2 separate regions of the Homo sapiens genome follow, and region 1 is linked to region 2. Evidence: fine-mapped expression QTL. A gene starts in region 2. The other region holds a variant in brackets. All regions are shown on one strand. Distances are between the middles of the regions. Region 1 overlaps FAM193A (family with sequence similarity 193 member A). Region 2 holds the start of TNIP2 (TNFAIP3 interacting protein 2).

The links.
Region 1: its variant is fine-mapped to the expression of TNIP2 in whole blood (TOPMed, PIP above 0.99).

What each region holds. Positions count from the first base shown.
Region 1 is chr4:2,729,663-2,732,559 of GRCh38, forward strand. It overlaps FAM193A (family with sequence similarity 193 member A), which reads left to right. Exons shown (of 21, transcript NM_001366318.2): 21 at 2,113-2,897. The coding sequence ends at 2,206. Among named protein-coding and RNA genes, the nearest start is that of TNIP2, 25 kb to the right of the region's middle. The variant G/A (reference allele first, on the strand shown) is at 1,301.
Region 2 is chr4:2,754,715-2,757,611 of GRCh38, forward strand. It overlaps TNIP2 (TNFAIP3 interacting protein 2), which reads right to left and starts at 1,622. Exons shown (of 6, transcript NM_024309.4): 1 at 1,300-1,622. The coding sequence starts at 1,575. RefSeq lists silencers at 1,165-1,224, 1,245-1,764, 1,945-2,084.

The DNA.
Region 1 (2,897 bases), 25 kb before region 2:
TACCTGCCACCGGCAACAGGCTCGCTCAGCCTCTGCCCACCAGGCTGAAGCCATGCTCCCACCACAGCCTCCCGAGTAGCTAGGACCACAGGTGTGCGCCACCACACCTGGCTAATTTTTGTGTTTTTTTGTAGAGATGAGGTTTTACCATGTTGCCCAGGCTGGCCTTGAACTTGTAAGCTCAAGTGATCCACGCACCTCAGCCTCCCAAAGTGCTGGGATTATAGGCATGAGCCACCACAGCAAGGCTTTATTATTTTTGAGACGGGTCTCACCTTTGTCACCCAGGCTGGAGTGCGGGGGCACCATCACAGCTCACTGCAGCCTTGACCTCCCAGGCTCAAGGATCCTCCCACCTCAGCCCCGAGCAGCTGGGACTATAGGCACATATGTGTACTGCCACTCCTGGCTAACTTTTTACTTTTTGTAAAGATGGAGTCTCACTGTGTTGCACGGGCTGGTCTCAAACGCCTGGGTTCAAGTGATTCTCCAACCTCAGCCTCCCAAAGTAGTAGGAAAACAGGCATGAGCCACCATGGCCAGCTTCAGATCTCCTCTTTGGTGTCAGTTTCAGGAAGGAAAAACCAAGAAACAAGAATGTTGACTATTTGCCTGGCTAAGACCTGACACAGGAATCCTTTTAAACAGCTTTAGAGTTGAAAGTTGACTTAATTAGAAGCTGATATTTAGGATATATGTGTATACAATTTTTTCGAGGCCTCTGCTTTCTATAAAAGCTTCTTGGAGGCCGGGCGCGGTGGCTCACGACTGTAATCCCAGCATTTTGCGAGGCCGAGGAGGGCAGATCACAAGGTCAGGATATTGAGAGCATCCTGGCTAACATGGTGAAACCCCATCTCTACTAAAAATAGAAGAAATTAGCTGGGCGTGGTGATAGGTGCCTGTAGTCCCAGCTACTTGGGAGGCTGAGGCAGGAGAATGGCATGAACCTGGGAGGCGAAGGTTGCAGTGAACCGAGATCACGCCACTGCACTCCAGCCTGGGCGACAGAGCAAGACTCCGTGTCAAGAAAAAAAAAAAAGCTTCTTGGCCAGGGAAGAAGCTACAAAAAATACAAAAATTAGCTGGGTGTTGTGGTATGCACCTGTAGTCCTAACTATTTGGGAAGCTGAGGCAGGAGAATCGCTTGAACCTGGGAGGCAGAGGTTGCAGTGAGCCAAGATCGTGCCACTGCACTCCAGCCTGGGTGACAGAGACTCCATTTGAAAAAAATTAAAAATTAGCTAGGTGTGGCCAGGCACAGTGGCTCACGCCTGTAATCCCAGCACTTTGGGAGGCC[G/A]AGGCAGGCGGATCACTTTAGGTCAGGAGTACAGATCAGCCTGGTCAACATGGTGAAACCCTCTTTCTACTAAAAATACAAAAATCAGCTGGACGTGGTGGTGGGCACCTGTAATCCCAGCTACTTGGGAGGCTGAGGCAGGAGAATCACTTCAACGTGGGAGGCGGAGGCTTCAGTGAGCTGAGATTGTGCCATTGCACTCTAGCCTGGATGACAAGAGCGAAACTCCTTCTCAAAAAAAAAAAAAAAAAAAAAAAAAAAACCGGTGTGGTGGTACATGCCTGTAGTCCTAGCTACTTGGGAGGCTGAGGCAGAGAATTGCTTGAACCTTGGAGGTGGAGGTTGCAGTGAGCCGAAACTGCCACTGAACTCCAGCCTGGGCAAGAGAGTGAGACCCTGTCTCAAAAAAAAAAGGATTTCACCATGTTGCCCAGGCTGGTCTCGAACTCCTAAGTTGAAGTGATTTGCCCTCCTCAGCCTCCCAAAGTGCTGGGATTACAGGTATGAGCCACCACACCCTGCCTGGGCCTGATAATTTAAGGGCGCTCACAGCTCTCAGATTAAACGTTTCTTTTCTTTCTCAGGACTCCTTCCGCCCACCCATTCCTCCTCCCGAGTCCTTTCCCCTTCTCAAGTGCAGCCTGTAGCAGGGCCTGGAGGGGACCCTTGACACTGTGCCCCTCACCGAGAATCTAAACCCCTGACCCCGCAGTGAGTTTCTGGCAAGAACAGGAGTGTGATGGGCTTTGCCAAGCACCAGCTTGGTTGTGGGCTGTTTCCTTCAGTGACTGTTTGGCTTTTTGTCTTTGCAGGTTCTGCTTGGATTCTGCTAGACAGACCCGACAAAGACTGTCTATCAACTGGTCCAATTTTAGCTTGAAAAAAGCCACCTTTGCTGCCCACTGAATGAGGACTCCCTGGAGAGGGACACGCGAGAGGCAGGCCAGGCTGCACCACCCCAAGAGCCACGCCCCTCGCTGGCGCCCCAGAGCCGTGGTGCTTGCCAAGGGCTGTGCGGAGCTGGTGCTGCCTGAAACCCCAGACCGAGAAGTTGATGCTCGGCCCACGCCGTTAGCTCGTGTGCGTGTAGTCTGTGCGTGAGACTCCTTCGATTGTAGCTCTGTGCTGTCGGATTGGAACAGTAGTTCCCGCCAAGTCCTCCCACCACCGCGGCCTCGGAGGCCTGGGCCGTGGCCAGATAGGAGTTTGCATCATCCACGTGGCTCCGTTGCCTCTGCATTGCGCCCTGTCCTGTCATGTGTCCTCACCGGGGTATCGGCCGTCACTCAGCTCTCCTGTGCCCCTGCGTCTCACCCTAGGCGGGCTGGGCGGGGCAGGCCTCCTTTGTTCTCCACAATCTACTGTCTCCGAGTGTACACGTTGCGCTGTTTGTGTTTGATCCCCCTGACTTGTAGCCAGCTTGTGTAAGATCCCTTGCAGAACGAGAAAGTTAAAAACAAGCCCACCCAGTACTCACACCATCAAGTCTGTTATAGAGTGTACGACTGTATTAACACGGAGGCCTGCCTGGCTACTTTTTTAACATATTGTTAAGTAATATTAAAATCATGTCTTTCTTTTTGAAAGATGGAATACA
Region 2 (2,897 bases):
CCTTGTGTCCATTTTTAATTTAATTTTTTCAGACAAGGTCTCACTTTGTCACCCAGGTTGGAGTGCAGTGGTGCGATCTTGGCTCACTGCAACCTCTGCCTCCCAGGCTCAAGTGATCCTCCCACCTAAGTCTCCCTAGTGGCTGGGAGCACGGGCACGTGCCACCATGCCCGGCTAATTTTTTGCACTTTTTGTAGACAGGGTTTCACCATGTTGCTCAGCCTTGTCTCGAACTCCTGGGCTCAGGCAATCTGCCCGCCTTGCCTCCGAAAGTACTGGGATTACAGGCGTGAGCCACTGCACCCAGCCTAGGATTTGTGTCCTTTATCAGACACGGGCTGCATTTGCCATTGCTCCCAGCATAGAGTTGAAGCGCCACTAGTGAAAGACACATGCATGGGTGAGGGCTGGAAGGGACTCTAGAACACAATATGAGTACACGACCTTGGACCCAAGACACACATGTGTGCGTACACACACACACCATACACACCCCTCAGAATGTGTCTCCCGCACACACACCTCAAAACACCCCTAAGAACCAACCGGAACATACACACTACACAATACACACAGAATACACACAGCATACACACACCCCCCTCGGAATGTGTTCCCACACACGAACCTCAAAATACCCCTAAGAGCCCACCTGAACATACACCACACACACACAGAACCCAAGAACTGCACCAACCCCCCTCCTCAGAACCCAGTGCCTCCTCACCATCCCCCAGGACCCAGTGCCCTCCCAACCCCCCAGGATCCAGCATTCGCTTATCCCCTTCAGAACCTTGCACCCTCACCCCGCAGGACCCAGAGCCCCCTCACCTCCACCAGCACCTGGTGACGCCTCAAACCCCCCAGGACCCAGCACACCTCAGCCCGTGGTGTCCCCTTATCCCACTCAGGACCTGGTCCCCCTCTCTCCCCTAGGACCCAGGGTCCCCTCACCCCCCAGAAGCTGTTGCCCTATCACCCCCAGGACCCGACGGCCCCTTACCCCCAGGACCTAGTGTCCCTCAACCCCAGGACCCGGCACCCCCTCAACCCCCAGGACCTGATGCTCCCCCAACCCCTCAGGAGCCGGGGCCCCCTCACCCCCAGGACCCGGCACCCCCTCAACTCCCAGGACCTGGTGCTCCCCCAACCCCTCAGGACCCGAGGCCAACTCAACCCCAGGACCCAGTACCCCCTCAACCCCTCAGGACCCGGGGCCCGCTCGCTCACCCACCCAGGACCCGGCGGCCGCCACACGCACTCTCGCTCCCGCAGCTCCTCTGGTACCCGCCCTCGTACCTGGCGCATCTGGGCCTCGGCGGCGCCGCCCTCCTGCCTTCGCAGCTGCTCCCGGAAGCGCGCAACCTGCTCCAGCAGCGCGTCCACTAGGGACGGCGCGGCGTCCCCCTCCAGCGCGGCCAGGCGGGCGCGGAGGCGAGCGATGAGGGCGTCGCGGGCAGCGAGCTGGTCCTGCAGGCGGCGCAGCCGCTGTCCGGCCTCGTGGTACAGGGTGCAGAGCGCGGCAGCTGCGCGCGGGGCCTCCTCCCAGCCGCCCGACCCCGGGTCCCGGGACATGGCTGTAGGCCCGCCCGGGAGGCCGCGCGGCCGCCGGCAACTTCCGCGCCCGGGCCCCGCCGGCTGCCGCCCTTCCCGGAACTTTCCCCGGTGCGCCCCGCCCACCCACAACAGCCCGGCCCCGCCCTCCCCCACGCAGCCCCGCCCCCCGCGCAGCCCCGCCCTTCCCCGCGCAGCCCCGCCCGACGGCAGCCCGCCCAGCCCCTTCTCGCCCGGCCCCACCCCTCCCACCGCCTACAGCCCGGCCCCGCCCCTGCCGTCCGCACCCGTCCGGGAGAGTTGGCCTGGCCCCCGAGGCTGTCCACACCCCAGCTGGTGCTGGGCTTATTCCAGTGGCCCCAAACATCCGCCTCTGAGGAGTTGTCGGAGAGTCGAACTCAGCCCAGGAGTTTGGGGATTCATCAGCCTCTGATGGAAAGGAAGGGCTTAACGACAACCCCCAAGCTCTGGAGCTAAGTGTGGGTCTGAATCTCCCCGCGAGGGTCCAGGCCTTGCGGCCACAGCAGCAACAGAAGCTCCAGGAGCTGAGCTCGCAGCGCACCAAGCACGTGGCATGTGTTCCGTCACCTGGGGACACTGAGCCCAGAAAGAGCTCCAACCCCCTGCCCCGCACGCCGCTTTCTTTTTTCTTTCCTTTTTTTTCTTCTTTTTGAGACGGAGTTTCGCTCTGTTGCCCAGGCTGGAGTGTAATGGCGCGATCTCGGCTCACTACAACCTCCGCCTCCCAGTTTCAAGCGATTCTCCTGCCTCAGCCTCCTGAGTAGCTGGGATTACAGGCGCCCGCCACCATGCCCTGCTAATTTTTTGGTATTATTAGTAGAGATGGTGTTTCACCATGTTGGCCAGGCTGGTCTTGAACTCCTGACCTCAGGTAGATCCACCGGCCTCAGCCTCCCAAAGTGCTGGGATTACAGGCGTCAGCCACTGCAGACGCTGCTTTGTAAGGTGGCTAGTATGGGCCCACGGGACAACCTTCCTGCTAGATGCTGTTCTTATATAGCAGAAGCAGCAGGAAACCAGCCCCTTCCCACCCTTTCGCTTTTCCATCCCTTTCCTTCCCCAAAATTCCCAGACAAACGCTAGTGTTTTTCCACAGCCCAGTCTTCCCCACAATGATGCCCAAGCACACATGGGGTCTTTCCAAGGTTCCCTACTCAGGATAGGGCAGGGGTCTTCCCTGTGTGTGCACTTGCCCACAGGCTCCGCCCCTGAGCAGCTTCTTGACTTTCTTCCCTTATGTGATCCACAGCCAAGCCTGAGCTGAGCCTGGGAAAACACAAGCTTGTAGAATCAGACAAGCCTATAAGCAAAGCCAGAGCCAC